Homo sapiens: one gene and its partner. The protein of the gene in region 2 interacts with the protein of the main gene of each other region in a biochemical or structural test. Each region holds a gene or a part of one and is shown on either strand. Other genes may lie near its edges. The genes, in order: PROS1 and F5.

The links.
Region 1: the proteins of F5 (region 2) and PROS1 form a complex in vitro, tested with the Homo sapiens proteins (2 studies listed by BioGRID).

Annotation. Positions count from the first base shown.
Region 1 is NC_000003.12:93,893,396-93,900,896, forward strand, and holds part of PROS1 (vitamin K-dependent protein S isoform 2 preproprotein), read right to left. Parts: coding exon 7,409-7,501; intron 5,175-7,408; coding exon 5,053-5,174; intron 3,297-5,052; coding exon 3,181-3,296; intron 1-3,180. UniProt on the Homo sapiens protein: Anticoagulant plasma protein; it is a cofactor to activated protein C in the degradation of coagulation factors Va and VIIIa. It helps to prevent coagulation and stimulating fibrinolysis.
Region 2 is NC_000001.11:169,573,302-169,585,585, reverse strand, and holds part of F5 (coagulation factor V preproprotein), read left to right. Parts: intron 1-3,063; coding exon 3,064-3,155; intron 3,156-12,284. UniProt on the Homo sapiens protein: Central regulator of hemostasis. It serves as a critical cofactor for the prothrombinase activity of factor Xa that results in the activation of prothrombin to thrombin.

The DNA of each region.
Region 1 (7,501 bases), on a different chromosome or scaffold from region 2:
TTTGACATATATTTTGATAGCACCTTCCAAATGCTGAAATTAATACACAGGTATAAGTATCAGGCATACTATATCTCTCCTGGAGCCTTTTATACACTATATAATCTGACATTAAGAAGTGGTAGTTTTTTTTGTTGTTGTTCTTTTTTGTTTGTTTTTGTTTTTGCTGTATCCATAAGTGATCATAAAATGTGTTACAATTTCATCGTTGGTTTATTCATCAAAAGGCATATTTTCCCTATAATTTCACATGTCAGGAATCACTCGTGGAGATCTACAAGATGGCACATGGATGACTGCAGACATCATTAAGCCTTCATGTGTGGTAAGAAAGGTAAAATTTAAAAACTTAAAATATATCTATTAGCTTTCCTAAAACTCCAGTTGCATAAGTCACTGTTGTAGAATACACAGAAGGAAAACTTAAAAGACATAGTCTACCCATGTGTTTGGGGGGTATCTGAGTGCTGGCAACATCTGTTGCTATTAAGACTCTAGACATATATGTAGCTATTACAGGGGAGAAAAGTCTTAGGATGCAGGACTTAAAATAACATGTGTTGATTCAGTATCCTTAAAACACTTCAATGAGAATCAGCATTGAAGTTTCCAAGGGACTAGCAAATCCACATGATTGACGAAAGACAAACAGGGAAAAGGAACAATAGGTGTATAACTATTAGTCACCTAACTTAAAATAAAGGCAATTTAAGTTAAAGAGTCTGGACTTCAGATAATTGCTATATTAGGCAGGACAGAATCCCACACTCTTACCGCAATATAGTAAAATAGTAATAGTAATAGAGGCACCATTTGCAATGGGGCACGTATCTCCCTCAAATGGAACAAAGAAAAGGTGACAAAATGAATGTTTTCATCTTTAGAATTCCAAAGAAATATTTAAAAAGAGGTAAAATGTGGAGTAAAGTATGTTGGATGGATAACAATGTAGTAGGAATTTACTGAACTCAGATTATGAAAAAAAGAACAATTTTGCTTGGAATAAGGACTTCTATGCTCTTTCATAATTATCTGAGCATTTTGCTGATGTGAAGCAATATTATCTTGCCAAAATCCAAATCTGTGTATGCTCAGGATCTTCCAGCAGTTGATTCTATTATGGAGATAATTTCCTTTTCTTTGTAAAATCAGGCTGAAATCATAGTTTCAAAGGGTCATGTTCTGCATATTTTGTTTCTGGAATATATCAGCAGCATATTGATTCATTACAATGGGGAACAATTCATTCTTTTTCACAAGCATGGTAAACAGGAAAATAGAATGAATTTGTTGACATTTACGGAGGGAAAGTATTTGATCATGAGCAACAGACGTCAAGAAATTTGCAAAAATAAATAAAAGCACTAGCTATTCTTTGTGTTGATCACACAAGGGGCAGTTTATAAAAATTCATCAAGCTATACATTTAATCTAATGTGTACATATCGGTACATACTTTATATTTCAATGAAAAGTTTAAAATAAATAAATAATAAATTCTGGAAAAAATAATTTGTCCAATTCTGATCCCATGTTAGAGATCAAACTACTATGAATCGTCAGTGAGAAATGAACAAACTCCTGGAGATTGGCTCCAGGACCTCTGGATGGTATCAATATCCACAGATGCTCAAGTCCCTTATATAGAATGGCATAGTATTTGCATATAACCTATGCACATCCTCTCACGTACTTTAAGTCGTCTCTACATTATGTATAATACTCAATACAATGCAAATGTATGTAAATAGTTGTCATACTGTATTGTGTCTCATTTGTATTATTTTGTATTGTATTGTCATTGTGTTTTTTTCTGAATATTATCTACCCGAGGTTGGTTAAATCCACAGATGAGGAACTCAAGGATTTGGAGGATCAATTGTATTCCTAAAAGTGTTATTTACTAGAACTAATATTTTTCTCTCATTATTATTCTCATAGCAGGGAAGAGTTTTCTCCAATCTCTATCATTAGAAGATATTAGTTGCTCTGTGATGTTAAAGGAAAAAACCACATATTGGCAGAAATAAAGTGTGGAAGGAGCACTGTTACTTAAGTATTTATGTAAGTTATTGATCTTAGAATAATTTTCAATGTTTTTAATAACGTCTATGAATTTAGTTGAATTATTTAATGAATAATCATTCATGTATCTAACATCAAGTTCTAAACATACATGCTTATTTAATTAAAATATTTTAAAATTTGAACTGTATAATCTGTCTCAAGTATTTTGCCTTCTCATTATTCCAAAAAAAATCCAATTTCTTTCTTCTACTTCCAGCAATGTATGCTTCTGAGAAAATCTGATAACTGAAGTACAATTATGGCAGATCACCTGAGGTGATCACCTGAGGTCAGGAGTTTGAGACAACCCTGGGCAACGTGGTAAAACTCTGTCTCTACTAAAAATACAAAAATTAGCTGGGTGTGGCAGCTCACACCTGTAGTCCTAGCTACTCAGAAGGCTGAAGCAGGAGAATTGCTTGACCTGGGAGGCGAAGGTTGCAGTGAGCCGAGATTGCGCCACTGCACTCCAGCCTGGGGAACAAAGCAAGACTCTGTCTCAAAAATAAATAAATATAATAAAATAAAAATTGGATCATAAACATTGCTATAAAAATAAGTGGAATCATGACTAAAAAACATAAGCATTTACTTCATTTCTGAACTCAATCTAAGTACGATAATAATGGATAAAGTATTTAGACAGCCAACTAAAATTATGTAATATATGTCTTTAAAATGCCACTTAAGCAAGTTTAAATTTTTTCCTTAATAATTTTGAATATAATGATATTCTAAAAGCAATACTGAGTATTTTTTATTACCTGGTTTTCATAACATGTGTAAAGAATAATGGAAATTTCACAAGTACATTAAATCTACTTTCCCAGCTTCTTAGTAAATATGCATTTTCTACAAAAGGAATAATATGGAATAATGTAAAATGTTCATTGGGGAAAGTCAGCCTAGAATGACTCAAAAAGGTTTTAGGATGAAAATTACATGTGTGAAGGAGTAAATTAACTTTAGGTTTCCCCAAGTCATCTGATTGGTAATATGACTACATTATCTGATAGGTAATACAATTTCACACACTTCAAACCTTTTCGGCCACTTTTCTTCTGCCCTTATCTGCTTAACCTCTAGAAATTATCATTGGTATTGGTTCCTCACCTGCTGATTTCTGGCAAACGAAATTTTAAATATAAAACAACCCCTGCAAACTGCTCCGCCAAGTAAAGTAATTCATACTTTGTGTCAAGGTTCAAGGGAAGGCACACTGAAACAACCTGGAATAAAAGAAACCAAATAAACAACAAGAAAATCAAAATGCACAGGTTATTGCTTAATGTTTGTGTGAGGTCATGCATTTTTGTTTGGTTACTAATGTATCATCTGTAATACACTAAAATAATTAAGAATATTTTTGGTAATAATAAATACATATCTTCCATTTCCTTGTATAGTCTATCTATCAGTATAACCTCCAAGAATACATGTGTTTTAAAGCCTCGTTCAATGTGCATGGCTTTCGATCTTTGTCTTTAATACTTCCTTTGCAAATTTTCGTCCTAAACACAAACTCTTTCTTCAAGAACCAATATATATTTCTTTAATTAACAGTCAGGTATATTATCTCCCATGAATTATGTCTGAAAATTATTTTTATTTGAAGTCAGAAATAGGTGTAAGAATTAATGTACCAATAAACAGCACCTCATTCATTCACTCATTCATTTATTAAGCAAAAGTTTTCTGAGCAAGAATGTGCTATCTAGATAGTAAAGGGAATACTGGAAAACATGAAGGAAATAAATATAAATTCAGATCTCATAGTCTCCAAGGAATTTACAAGAACATTATTTAAAGTCATCACATATGGTATCAAGTATTTTTTTTCTACGAGTGAAAACAAACATTAAAATGAAAAGCTTTTAACATACAAATTATTGAACACATATGAGGATATTTTGAGGAGAATTACGTACATAGCACTATATTAAATATAGGCCCAGAAATAACATTTTATTTCCCCTTAAAACTTTAATAAATCTATTTCAAGGCAGACGGTGATATGTAACTACACCAAATACAGAAATAATAAAGGACTAAATTACAAAATAGATGTTCACACAGCATGGCATTTCAATTAAGTAGTAACGTACCAAAATTACAACAAATGCCAACTAGCTTATTACCAAGTAGGTTGCATATTATTGAATGTGACATTTTTCTGGACATATACAGCTTTGTTTTGGCAACAGCTATAGAGGTATGTATGTATACTTAGTTAAATCATTATTTAGGCATTTTTTATGGTCTGCCTCATAATAATATATAATTTTACCTTCACTTGTCAAAAAAAGATGCAGGAAAAAAAGAGCTCAGATGGTGACATTTATTTCAATGAAGTAAAAATGAGCACCTACCCCCAATATTCAATTCCTGGGTCAATTATGCATTAAATCTAAGTAATTAAAAGCAAGTTTGAGAGACACAGATTAAGAAATCAACCTCTCTGAATTATGATATACTTAAACCCCACTAAATCCTAGAAATGGTTAAAAGGGTACATTAAAACTGCACTTGTACCCTCTGAAATTTTATGAGCACTTTATAAACCCTATAACGCCTAAGGCATGATCAAACTAGTCAGAGTGGAATCCAGAAAAGTAGACACTGGAAAATGTTTTCACTGAAGTTTCTATGAGAGATTTTTTTTCACAATGAGGGCTATTAAACTCAGCTTTTCTTGATTTCTTAAGTAAACATACAAGTTGTATTTTATAAATGTACAGACTACAGATAAGTACTCTCTAAACTGTGACTCTACCCTCTTTTTTTTAAACCCAGCCACTAATTATCCCCAATGTTTATGACTTACATGACCATAATTAGTAAATAATCATGACTCATAACCTGCTTAAAGCTACAGCAATTATTGCAGAACGTCTGTATTTTCCTGACTTAGCTATGTGAAAATAAGTATCTAGGATCTCTCATTTTAGAAAACAGGTGAGAAGTTAAGCATTGTAAAATGTTTACCTCACAACTCTTCTGATCTTGGGCAAGTTTGAATCCTTTCTTCCCATCACAATAGCAAGTGTAACCTCCAGGGTAATTGACACAAAGCTGAGCACACATGTTCTCAGAGCATTCATCTATATCTGAGGTAAAAAAAACACACGCACACAAACTTTAATATCCCCTAAATGTTCAATCTTATAGGCAGAGGAATATTATGATTGTAGTATGATATAATCAATGATAATCGAACCTTAGGGAAAGAAATACTATGACATCAAACTACATTTAAACATAATACTGAACATGGAAATTTAAACGAGTTACAAGTATAGTTTTTATTTACATATTTGAAACAAAAATTAATTTATAACTTTCAGTGATTAAGTAAAGTATAACAATTCTACCAAATTTCTCATTTTGAATTTGAAGAAAAAAAAGATTGAGAATCTCAACTTAACTGTCATTTCTGATCATTTGAATTTCATTGAGATTACCTCACAATTCATTGCTTTGAAAAAAAGAAAAAAGAAATGAGAAGGGAAAGAGGAAGGGAGAGCATGATGGGGAAGTAAAGGAAAGGAAAGTTAGGGAAGGGAAGGGAAGAAAAGACCCCTTTAACTGAAGGTTGATACAATCAGGAATTAAATGACAATATCAAGAACATTGGAACACTCATAATGCGATAATTAATGTTGGCAGTGAATTTAGGGAAATATCTGTTTTTTTTTTTTTAAAAAACCTCACTGTGATGTAATCTCCCATATTATGAAATCTTCTATATGGTCCCTGTCCCTACTCCATATTTTGAGAAAATCATTCTTGGAAATTTATAATATTATGTTGAAGCAAACATCTATCTCAGAGTTATATAAGATCATTGACATTTTCATTGGATATGCCCTATGACCTTTAAAACTCCACAAGCTCATAAATGCTATTATTGAATATGTTCTCATAAAATAATTTAAAATAGATTCCCAAAATTAATAATCCTTAGTATTAAAATTGCATATTATTAAAGTTATAGATAAGAGTCATATATAAATCTTTTTAAAAAATATGTCATTCATTAAATAAAACTACAATACAAGTGATGAAGTTGGCTAATGATAATTCCGCAGACATCTAGAGTTTTCCACGGTAATTTCTATCTGCAATGGTGAGAAAGGAGAAATGTGTTGCGGGGGCTGGCAGGGGAATATTTTTGGTGATTGCAAAAGGAGATGATAGGACATCAAAATCTCAAAAGCAGCATACGTAGTTAAAAAATATATTGTAAAATTATTATTGATTTAGGCAACTTCATAGAGACAGAAAACAAGATTAGAGGTTACCGCCATCAAGGTAACTAATAAAAGAAAACTCACTGCTTAATGGTTACTGCTTAAGAGTTTCTGTTGGGGCTGATGAAAAAGTTTTGGAAATAGCAGTGATGGCTGCATAATGGCATGAATGTAATTAATGCCACTGAACTGTACATTTAAAAATGGTTAAAAGAGTACATTAAAACTGTACTTGTAGCCCCTAAATCTATTTTTTAAAAGGTACATTATACATGTGTGTGAATATACATACATACATATATATATACAGATACAATAGAAAAATTAGTGTTGATTAGTTCCAGCCATGGCAGTAAATCTGTTTTAAAATTTTAAAAAATCGAAAGGAAGGTATGAGATAATCTGTATATCATAATAAACAAACCTACAAACAAACAACTATAATATGTTGAAGCTTCCTGATGCACACAGGGCAGCGCCACTGCAGTCACATGAAGTAACAGCACCTTTAAGGGGTTGCCCCAAACCCACAGGCTCTGACATTACCGATCAGTATTTCTTAAATTTCTAGAGTATTGTTATCATTTCTTTATCATGAGATAATAGAACTGTGTCATTTTTTATTTTAGAATAAATGATTTATTTATATATGCACAGAAAAATCACTGAAAAGCTTGGAATAAAAACTAAAGTTTTAACCATGCTCATTGTCTCAATAAGATGATTTTTAAGCTTGTGTCTTTCTTTTCTATCTACTGTTTTTCCTTCCAAAGTGAAATTCTCTTTATCTTTGAATATGATATAAATGATGTGAAAATATGTTTATCTTGTTTTTACCACACATGGAGGTCTCCAATTCATAGGTAGCTCAAAGGGCCAACTGGCGTGCCTAACACCAAACTTAAAGACCATATGCCTTACATACTCTTGCTCTGGAAGGAAGGAAGCCAATGATTACCCAATTGAACAAGCTATATTAGGGATAAGAAAATATGACTGTTGATGTCAAACAAAGCCAATGCTTTTAAATATCAGTTCAGGGTTCACACCCACCCTCTCCACCATCAGTAATGATACCACCATCATCCTACCTTCACAAGACTTTGATTTGAGATTATATCTGTAGCCTTCGGGGCATTCACATTCAAAATCTCCTGGGATGTTCTTGCACACAGCTGTGCCAC
Region 2 (12,284 bases):
TGGCTACTTAAAGGCATATGTAACTGAGAGGAGGTTTAATTCAGATAAAATACTATCCTTGAGTTGCAAACTATTTTTTCTAATTGAAATGTTAAAAATAAGACTTCTCAGAAATTAACTAAATCATACAGTCTATTCAATATTTCCAGTTAGTTATTTTTTAAATGGTAAACCTGCTAGTGTGACTCACTTTTTTTCCTTACATCACACTTCATTATGAAAGATGTGTTCCTCTTTTACAATTACAAAACCAAAGTAATCTGCCAAAAAATAATGTAATATTTTGAGATCTTTTAGTGTATAATATTAACCTTTTTAAAACTCTCATTGTAACTGGGTTATTTTGGAGGGTATTACATACCATCTTGGTCTTATAATAAGAAGAGATCCCTCCTTCTCAAAAATAATCATTTTAAATATCGTACTTCAAAGTGATAATCTAGGTCACACCCACACCCTTTGGGAACTGCCGTAAGCTAAAACCCCAAGGAAAATAACAGTCCTTCTAACACTAATCTTGCCTGCTCATGAGTAGAATGCAGACTTGGTTGTTGGCTTTCTTGTAGCATGCTGGGTTCATGCTTGGGAGTTTTTTCTCTTGTCTGTAGTTAGCGTTGAAAATAACAAGCAAAATACCGGAGGCAGAACCAGATAGGGCAAAGGTCTGATTCACATGGTGAGTACACAGGGAACCATGACTGGTCATTCTGTCCCCTCATCCTGTGGGTAAGTTTCCAAAGTTCTGGAGATTCGTTCCTCTGGTAGGAATTGTTGAGTCAAAACCATAGAAACACAACCCAGACAAACTGTCATATTGTTTAACCCTAAATCATATCATTTCTCTCTAGCATTTTCTTATGAAAAATCTAATCCATATATCTGGCTGCTTAAACTAAGAACTTGTTCTAACTTGTCCTGCCCCTAGAGCTATGATACTCACTAGGTGAATATCAACATAGCCAACTCCATCTTTTGGCAAAGTGTATTTTAGCACAAAGCAGACATCTATCTACTTATTTCATATAATATTAGCAGGACAATGCCTTTTAAAGGTAAAATGTATCTATTATTCTTGCTCCAAGTCTAAGGTGAACACTTTCAAAAATTTCCTTAGAAAACTTGTTTAGTCACTCACATGTATACAAAGAGATATTGAAGAAAAGATATACATACATTTTCCTTCTAGGGTTCTAGCTTTATATGATTTTGTGATTATGAACAAATCATCTTTAAACAATCCTTATAAATGAAAAACTCGTCGTACACATTGTTTGAATTCATATGATCTGTAACTTTTTAATCAGATAGATTATTTTCCAATAGAAATTGTTCAGATCAAAATAGACATACCTCAGTATGAATACACAGCATACATAGTAAAAACATGTTAGGAAACATCTCTCTGTTGAAATTACTCCACGTAAGAGACTGATATTTTTTAGTAAAGATTTTACACCATCATCTACATTTCTGTATTAAAGATCTGGGGCAGGGGAGGACAATAACTTTTCAATTGTACTAAAAATAAATAAATAAAAATGGACTTCCACATTAGGGACATTAGTATATAGAATCCTGGAATTCTTAAGTTAGAAGAATGCTAAGAGTTCATTTAATTCATATTCAACTTCCACGCTTTAACCTTCTACTTTTCCCCTTTCCCTCAGCACCAATGACCTTACCAAGTAGTTGTCTAATTTCTACTTGAATGCTTCCAGTGATGGAGAATCCACTACCTTCTCTATCTAGCTATTCTAAAAGTACTTACGTGCCTCCTTTAATTCTGCCCCCACATATTAACACAGTTTCTGTATTCCACATATTACAATTTGTGAGCATTACTGTAACTACAGATTTGTTTTTGCTTTCTGAGAAAACCTGAAGGGTAAAGACTAACTCTTATTACATTTACAAAATAATATTACTAGCTAACATGGATTGAGTATTTCTAGTGTGCCAGCTCTATGCCTTTTGCACATATCAACTTATTTAAAATTATACAACAATTCTGTGAAGGAGATTTCAGTATTAATCTCATTTCATAGTTGTAGAAACTGAGGCACAAATGGATGAAGTAAACTTTTCAAAGTAAAACAATAAGAGGTAGATATAGGCTTCAAGTCCAGAGATACTGAATTCACAGCCTGCACCCTAGCCACCGCGCTGTATAGAAGTCATGGCATATGTGGGTGCTGTTATGTCTTGATTATGGCTGGGCCACTGTCCCCACATTAGGAAGCAAAACAAAGCCACTCTGATCAACTGATTTAGACATTTGCAAGGTATTTTCTCCAAATTCTCTTTCCTTTTACCCTCATCTTTGAGTTTAAGACAAGGATAAGACTGATTTGCCTTTAGAGGTACAGAACAATAACAACAACAGCAAAAACAGGAAAGTAACCCACCACTCACAACTCTCCCTGTTGTCTGTCCTCTCTCTAATTTTATTTAAAATCATGAATGCAGTGGTTTCACATTTTTTAATCTTGGTTCTGCCACTTATCAACTGTATCTCTTGGACAAGTTACTGACTCTTTCCAAAACAGTTTTTTCATTTGTTTGTTTCCAATATGAATCCCAGGGCTTTTACCCCATTAGCCATCTCTCACCTCTCAACTAGAAATAAATTCCACCAAATCAATACTTTTTCACAATGTTCCCCAGTAGATTAAAACTATATTTGATTGATCAGTTGAAAAACAGCTCATATATTTATTCATAAAGGATTTGGTCATATTTTAATCATATAAAATCTAAACCTACAGTTTGGGTTTCTACTGTGATATTGGGTTCTTTTTAGAAAATTGATTCTGAGGAATGATATTAGGGTAGATTAACTTGTGAACAAATAGTTATCACAACAGGATATTTTTGAAGAGACCAATAATTATTTCATTAACTTTACTTATTGATCATATTTATAAAACTGTGGACTTCTGAAATACAATAAAGATACTGGTATTCTACTAGAAGTCTGAAGATATGAGAGATCTACTTTTTTTGTAATGTGAGAAATAGATATTGAATATGCCTTTCAAATTAGTTTTTGTATTTTATTTCCAGTTTGAATCTTTCTGTAACTTCCTTTAAGAAAATTGTCTACAGAGAGTATGAACCATATTTTAAGAAAGAAAAACCACAATCTACCATTTCAGGTAAGCCTGAAATATACTTTTTTAATTTTAAAGATAAATTTCTATGGGTAATTTGGCATTCACATGCATCTAAAATATCCATTTACTGAAAATTTATAGAAACGTGTGGTTTTTTTTTTAAGAAGTACTGGCTACATAATATGTGGGGCCCAGTGCAAAATGAAAATGTGAGTCCCCTTGTTCATATTATTGAAAATTTCACAGTGACTGCAAAGCATTAAACCAAGCCAGGGGCCCTTTGGGGCATGGGGCCCTGTGAAACTGCCCAGGTCACATACCCATGAAGCTGGCTCTGTTTTTAACCTTGATTAAAATAACTAAATAAAACTTATAAGTGTTTGAATTTTTATTCATTCATCTAAAAAACTGTTATTGAGTACCTGGTATGGGCTGGGCATTGAAATAGGCATTGTGGATGCAATAGTGGACAAGACAGTCTCATATCCTGGGTTCATGGAGATTATGGTCTAGTTTAATGAGCATAGATGTGCCTTCGCAAAATGATATTTTGCTTCCATTTGGCTCCCTAGATTCATTCAAAGGAACTATGTATGGCTGACTCTTTTGCATCTCTTTCCCGTCTATTCTTCTGTTTATTTAGTGTGATATATACAATAGCCATAATTTTTAAAGAAAATCTCTTATTTTTTCCTCATCTCTTCCTTTATCAAGAAGACTGGGTTGAATAGGGTTCTAATATCTTAACTATGATACCATATTCCGCAGGGATGATAGAGACCATCAAGGGAGAACTTCCTCCAGTTGAATCCCCTTGTCAGTAATTCACCTGTCCCTTTCCCCAATCAGATGAAGACCTGCTGTCTTTCCCAGAATCATCCTAGTCTGTCCTGCCTCTTCTGATCTCCTTTAATCTTCAATATTTAGTCAATGGGAGTCTTCCTTTCAGTTAAAAATCAACGACTAAACCAAAACCAAATCAAACCATGTCCAGTTAACTCCTATCTAGAAAAAGAAAAAAAAAAATCTCCCCTTGACCCTGCCTGCCTTTTCCTTTTCTCTCCTTTCCTTCACTACCAGTTTTCTGTATGAGAACTCTGTATCATTCTCTACATTTCTTCGCCTATATTCCTTCCCTAATCTGCTTTAGTATGAATAAGTCTACTAAAATTACTCTCACAAAAGGGCACCTAGGACTTGAGGTGCCAGAGCCTATGTTCTTTTACTACTAGACATTACTAGGACATTTAACACTCTTCCTTTCTGAAGCTCTCGCTTTACCTGTTTTTTCTAGTGCCACTTCCCCTTGGTTTTCTCAGACTTCTCTTACCACTCCTGCTCAGTATCCCCACCAGATATTCTTCCCCAGGGTTCGAATCTCACCCAAAACCAAGGCTTTCACTACTACCTACCCAGAAGCCACTTTCCCTCTGAAGCTACATTGACACCCCCTCAATACCAGCAGAATTAAATCTTCCCTCTTCTATACATCCCCAGTACCTTGAATTAATCCCTACCTTCTAAAGATATTAAGAGGATCAATTGAGTTAATAAGTACAAAGTATTTATAATGATGCTGACACATAATAGGCACTCAGTAGAAGTTAGCTACATTATTGTTATTGTTGCTGCTATTACTAATCATAACTTAGATCATATATATCATAGTATTATGGATATCTATATATCTATATTTCTCCACTCATTTATATAGTCTTCACATGTGTTCATTTATATATTTATTTAATTTTAAACAGATCTGCATTTAAATATTCTTTTATTTTTAAATAATTGTGTATTGAGGCCAGGCGTGGTGGCTCATGCACTTTGGGAGGCCAAGGCAGATGGATCACTTGAGGTCAGGAGTTCCAGACCAGCCTGGCCCACATGGTGAAACCCCGCCTCTACTGAAAATACAAAAATTAGTTGTGCATGATGGTACATGCCTGTAGTCCCAGCTACTCAGGAGGCTGAGACATGAGAATCACTTGAACCCAGGAGGTGGAGGCTGCAGTGAGCTGACATCGCATCACTTCACTCCAACCTGGGTGACAGAGCGAAACTCTATCTCAAAAAAAAAAAAACAACAACAACAACAACAAAAAAGTATATTGAGAACCTACTACATTCTAGGCTCTGGGATAAAGTGAATAAGACATGGACCTTGATTTCCAGGAGCCAATCAGCTATTGGGGATAACCTATGGATAGACAAGCAATGACAGTAGAGTAATAAGGAAGAACTATGATGAGGATTCTGTAGTAGGACATAGGAGACCTATCTCCAGTCTGGTGGTCAGGAAAGTATTTCTATTTCTAGATTGATAGCTGAAAAAAGAGTAGGATCTTGGAAAGCCAAGTGGGGAGGCAAGGGGTTGGGTGATAGATGCATTTTAAACCAAGGCACAGAATGTTTAAAAGTTTGGAGGTGAGAGTATGGTATATTTGTGGAACCATAACTGGATCAGCACAGTTGGACCACAAACTTCAGGGAAGGAATTAACAAGAGATGCAACTAGATGGGGATCAGGGATCCATGCTAGGCTTTATATTGAGAGGAATAGGGAGTCCCTAAAAGGATTTCAGCAGGAGAAATATTTGTCCTTTAGAAAGATTATGTTGTCCAATTATAGAGAATAGATTGGAGAAAGACCAGTCCAGAGCCAGAGAAAGTAGTCATGGGACTGTTGTATCAATCCAGATAGCAGAGAAGCTGAGATGGAGTCCAAAGATATTTAGGAGCTAAAGTTGATTAAACTTGGTGACTCATTAGATGCAGATAATGAGGAAGAAAAGGGAATTGTTATGGACTTCAAGGTGTCTGGTTTGAACAGCAGAATGGATAGGGTGCCATTCAGTGAGAAAGAAAATGTAAGAAAAGGAGATAGTTTGTGAGAGAAGGTGATAAGTATAGATTTGGAGTCTGAGGTGTGTATAGAATATCTACCTAGAGATGTTAAGTGAGCAGACGGGTGTAGAAGTTTGGCCCTCAAAAGAGAGATCTGAGCTAGCTGTCAACATTTGGGAGACATCAGAACAAAGATGGCAAATGAAGAATTTAGAGGGTGTGAACTCACCCAGGGAGGATGTGATGAGAAGAGAAGGCTGCAGACAGAGCTCAAAGTAGCAGCAAAGTCCAAGGGATGAGCCAAGAAAGAAAAGTTTACCAAGGAGCTTGAGAAAGCCTGTTCAGGGAGGGGAGAAGAAATCTAGAGAATGTGTTATCCTGGAGGCAAAGGGTCAAATGCTATTAATATAAGGGTCAAAATATGGTCCCTTTGTTATGGAATAGTGGGACAAGACCAGATGGCAGGGTGTTGAGGAGTGAATGGAAGGCGAGGAAACTGAAGCACAAGGGTCTTATAGATAACTCTTCCCTGAAACTTGGTTCCAGATGGGAGGAGAGACAGGGTAGTTTCGGGGGTGGGGGTGGGTACTGAGGAGCTTAAGGACATTTGAGAATTTTATAAAAAGGAATACAGAGACTTAAATATTTAAGGGAAGACTCTATAGAAATGCCATGAAGTCCTTTCCAATAGAAAATGTGGGGATAAAACATCTGAGAGAGAATGATTAATGGAGACTTAGAAGAAGCAGGAAGCATTGGGATTCAAACCTTGGGCTGGCTTGGCCTTAGGTAGAATGGCTACCACCTTCATGGGGGGCCAGGAAAGCAGAGGATAACGTTGCAAATAAAATTAAGTTTGTAGTTATGAGTAGGAAGTTGAAGGATGTCCTGTCCTATATCACAGAGTCTATTCATTTTCATAGCTCCAGCTCCAAGCTTAGCATGTACAATAGATACTTAAGAACTATTTAATTAAATTAAATTGTAGGTAGATGAAGGGAATATAAGGTGGGAAACATACTCATTAGGGCCAGGAAAAGAGGATTGGGGCCGGTATTTGAAGGTGTACCTTTTGTGGCTTTTGCCAAGCTAAGCAAATTTTAATCCCTTTGCTGTGTGAGACATTGTGCTAAATGCCATAAGAGACGGAAAGGACTAATTCCAGGCTGAAGACTTTTAAACAATAAAAAGGCATGGATAGCTTTTGAAGAAAAGGGTTCTGTGATCAAAGTCCTTTCAGATGATTAAATTTTTTAGTGATTTCCTGATTTAACCTTGTTAGAGGTAGACTCTGACAGTTGGTGAGAACAGTCTCCAATTTATGTGTAAGGCCTTTGCACCTTTCTGTCAACCCCTGTGTATCTCAGAATATATTTGTTTCATGTGGACAAAGGTGTTTCGACGTCCATTTTAATGTAATCTCTTCCTGAATGTCCAAAGTTGCTTAACTATGAACTTATGAAGTGCAGGAGTGGTATCTTATTCACCTTTGTAACTCTATAGTAGTTGATACAAGGAGGCAAATCTGGCGTGAAGGAAAAGCCTTTTATTTTGACTGAGAAGATCTGGATTTGAACACTGCCATTAACTATGTGGCCTCTCCCATTCCCCAGACTAGTCCTGTGTTATTTGTACCTTTCCCCTATGTCCTGCTCCACTCATCTGCTGGGTGTGATTCTAGCTGAGCCCTGAAAAAGTCATGAGCCTCACTCCTGCAGCATGAACTATTGTTGTTGTTAGTTCTTGTAATTGTAGGGGGCTGGGCTGTAGGATTGGAGGTATGAAGATGCCCATCCAATAAGGTTTGTGGACATTTGGGCAGGTGAGGGAGTACAGCTGGGGTCATTTTTAGGAATTCTGTCTTGGGCTTTAAAATGGCTAGTCTTGGCTGGGCATAGTGGCTCATGACTGTAATCCCAGCACTTTGGGAGGCCAAGGTGGGAGGATTGCTTGAGGCCAGGAGTTTTAGACCAGCCTGGGCAATGTAGTGAGACTCTGTTTCTATTTAAAAAAATACATACATATATATATATATATATATATATATATATATATATATATATATTTAAATTAGCCAGACATGGTGGTACATACCTGTCATTTCAGCTACTGGGGAGGCTAAGGCAAGAGGGTCATTTAGGACAAGAGCATCACTTGAGCCCAGGAGTTGGAGGCTGCAGTGAGTTATGATCACACCACTGCACTCCAGCCTGGGTGACAAAATAAGACCTCATCTCTAAATAAATAAATAATTAATTAAATTGGCTAGTTTTGAGTCTGCATATTTTTCAGGGACAAATTATAAAATGTTTGTCCCTGAAGGAGTTTTGAAATAGCTGCAACAATCACTACCTTGTGTTATGTAATGCATTGTTCACCTAAGAGCAGGGGATTGGATTAGTTGACCTTCTGCAGTCCTTTCCAGTTCCACAACTGCACTAAATTGGGTACATGCTGTGCTGGCTTCCCCAAGCCCTGAAGTAGGCCACTCCTTTCCCCAATCCAGCTTTGGGCACTGAGGAGAGGGTTAGAAGGGTTTTAGGCCATCTGGCTGTTGGAGGAGCTAAAGAGCAGCTTGAAAACCATTTAGCCATGTGTTTTCCTACATGCGTGAAAGTATTTGGTATGCATTTATGAAAACATCCTTTTGTTTTGCCTTAAATCTGAAGAAGCAGGAGGGGAGGTTGAATAAATACTCCAAACTGTCCACTGAAGTAATAGGTCTTATTAGGTTAAATAACTTAGGAGACTTTCTCTGGGCATCTGGTATTTGCAGGCATGTGATGCCAACAAACAAATCAACCAAGCAAGAGAACCATGGCAACTAAATGCGGCACACAATTGGCAGCATAGTCAGCACCCTGTTGGGCTCATTGGCAGCTGGGGTAGGTGGGAATAGTCAGTGGAAACTTCCATCAGGAGCCAAGACAGAGGGTAGCAGCTGGAAGAGGGGGGTCAGTCAGTGGAGTCCGACATGTCAGGAGTCAAAAGAGGTGTAGACATCTGGACTATTCTATAAAGATGGGGGCCTGAGCCTGCCCCGTGGAAGGAATAGGGAGAGCTTTGGCTCAGGAGTCCAGAGATCTGAGTTCTGATCCCAGCAATGCTACCAGATCACTGACTGACCTTGGGCAAGTCACCTTTGTCCCCCGATTCCTACCTCCCAGGCTTTGTTAACTAAAATAAGGACTGAACTTTGTGACCTCCACAGTCCTGTGTAAAGCTAACATAAAAACAAACAAAAAGCTTCAGGCACAAGATCAGAATAAACTCCAGGAGTAGGAGTTCAAGGAAAGGAATAGGACAACCGTGGGTGGCAAGACAGGGGTAGGGAAAGATAGGACCTCTGTCCCAGAAATCAGAGTTTACCATTGCTTCTGTAACCAGTTACTGCAAACTTAGTGGCTAAAACAACACAAATTTATTCTTTTATGATTATATATCTGCAGATGAGAAGTCCAAAATGGGTTTTATTGGGCTAAAATCAAGGTGTTGGCAGAGCTGCATTCCTTCTGGAGGCTCTGGGGGAGAATTGTTTCCTTGTCTTTTCCAGTTACTGGAAGCTGCCTACACTCACGGGCTCATGGCCCCTTCCTCCATCTTCAAAACCAGCTGAGTAGCATCTTCCAAGCTCTTCCTAACTCAGATTCTCCTGCATCCCTCTGATAAGGACCTTTGTTATTACATGGGATCCACCTGGACAGCCCAGAAGAATCTCATCTCAAGATTCTTAATCATAGATACACAGTCCCTTTTGCCATATAAAGTAGCATATTTCCAGGTCCCAGAGATTAGGACGTGGACATCTCAGCAGGGGCACATTATTCTGCCTACTACACCCACCAAACAAAGCCCTCCCACGGTGTCCTCCATCTCAGAGAATGGCACCCTCCTCCACCCAGCTCCCCAAATCAGAACCTCATCAGCCATCCACAGCAACTGATGTCCTTTATTCTCTACCCCACATCCAATCCATCTTCAAGTTCCAACTATTTTATCTCATAAATACATCACTAATATATTCTCTCCTCATCATCTCATCATAATCTCAGTCACCACCATCTCTCCTGGAGTCTTCTATCTGTTCTCTCAATTGTTCTCTGCTCAGTCTCCTCCGAGATCATCCTCCACAAATACAGCCAGAGATTTTAAAACCAAAATCTGGTCCATGTTGCACCCCTGATGAAAACTCTTTAATGGCTTCCAGATACTCTTAGGCTAAAGGGAAAACTCTATGAGGCTTACAAAGCCCTGCATGATGGGACTCTGAGGATGCCTTCGGCTTCACCTTCTGCCCCTTCCTTTCACATACTAAGCTCCACCTCCCCACTGGATAACTGTCAGTTCTCTAAAAAGGCCACATTTTCTGGCACCTCAGGGCCTTTGCGCACGCTACTCTAACTTTTTAGAATGTCTTTGGCCATCCCTTTTCCTCTCTGCCTTTGGACCTCAGTTAAAGGATTAATTCCTCGGGAAGGGATTCCCCAACTCACCTCCAATTGGACTAGATTCCACTGTCAAATACTCTTCAGAGTATTCCCTCCTTTTCTGTCATAATATTTACCATAGGTTTAAATTGAATGTTTTTGTGATCATTTGTTTAAAATCTGTCTTTCCTACTATAAAAACGTATAAAGTTATAGAACTATAAAAATGTTTGACTTTTATAAACTCTATGAAGGCAGGGAGTGGGTGTATCTATTTTACTCTTTTACGCACCATTGCAATTCTGATGCCTAGGATAATATAGGCACTTGATATTCATTGAATAAATAAAGGAATGAATAAAGGAATGAATACAAGGTGGAGGTGTAGTATAAAGAAGTGGCTTAAAAGTCACGATCTAGAGACAGACATATTAAACTTTAAATCATGATGCTGTGTGATATTAGGCAAGATATTTAAACTCTCTGAGGCTCAGTGTCCTCACCTATAAAATGAGGATCTTAATATCTACCTTAAAAACTTGTGAGGATTAATGTAGGGACTTACAGTGCTTGAATGTATTAAGGGAAACAGTACAGGAAAGCCTTATTATGATTATCATCACCACTGCAAACAAATGCTGGCTGAACTCCATGAGTGCCGTGACTTCCTTCTCCTGCTTCTAGGACGCCTAATGGCGAGAAGCCAATCCCATGACACTTGTGGATGGCTCAGAAATGACAGTAGTTGATTTCTGTCACTTGTCTGGAATGGGGCTTTTGGTCATAGATTCTCAAGATTTCAAAGACATCAAGATCACCAAGGAGCACACGTTAAAGTCCAGATTCCCAAGTTTCACCTCCAGAACTCAGATTCATTGAGGCTGAGGTGATATTTGGAAATCTGCCTCTTATTAAGACCCTAGGTGATTCTGATGCAGAGACTCCAAGGACTACACTTTGGAAATTCTAGTACAGTCATCCCTTGGTATCCACAGGGTATTGGTTCCAGGACTACTCACAGATACCAAAATTTGCAGATGCTCAAGTCCCTTATATAAAATTTCATAGTATTTGCAATAACCTATGCACATCCTCTCATATACTTTAAATCATCTTTAAATTAGTTATAATACTGAATGCAATGTAAATACTATGTAAATTGCTATTATGTTAGAGTTTTATTTGTATTGTTTTTATTGTTTATTTTTTATTGTTGTTTTTTGAATATTTTTGATCCAAAATTGGTTGACTCCATGGATGTGTAACCATGAATATGAACCATGGTCATGGAGGGCTGACTATATACAATTCCTCAAATTCTGACTCAGCCATCAACTTTTTCCCTAACTCCCCAGACAGAATTTGTGCTTCATCCTCTCTTCTTCTGTAATATTTTGCCCATATCTCAGCAGTCGCTCCTATCATACATCTATCTCCAAACTAGCTTGTGAGTTCCTTCAGTACAGGGACTGTATTTGATCCAGGTAGCCAGAAACTTTCTAACACAGTGCCTGGCATGTAGAAAGTAAAACCTCATTCTTGATTTCTGCACCCATAACCTCCTGTCTCTGCTGTGTTCTCCCATTGCAGTAACTAATAACATCATTTACCCAGTTGTTCTGATAAAACACCTTGAGGTCATCCTTGACTTCTGTCTCTCACAAGCCACATGCAATCCATCAGCAAGTCTTGTTTGCCTTACCTACAAAAATGTCCAGACTCCAACCACTACTCATCACGTTCTGCTACATGTGCTGGCCCAGTACACTGCAGTCTCTTTCCTATACTGCCTAATCTCTCTGCTTCCATTCTTGTCCCTACACAGACTATTCTCTACACAGCAGCTATGATGAACTTTTTGTTTTAGGATGAACTTTTAATACACGTTATACTATGT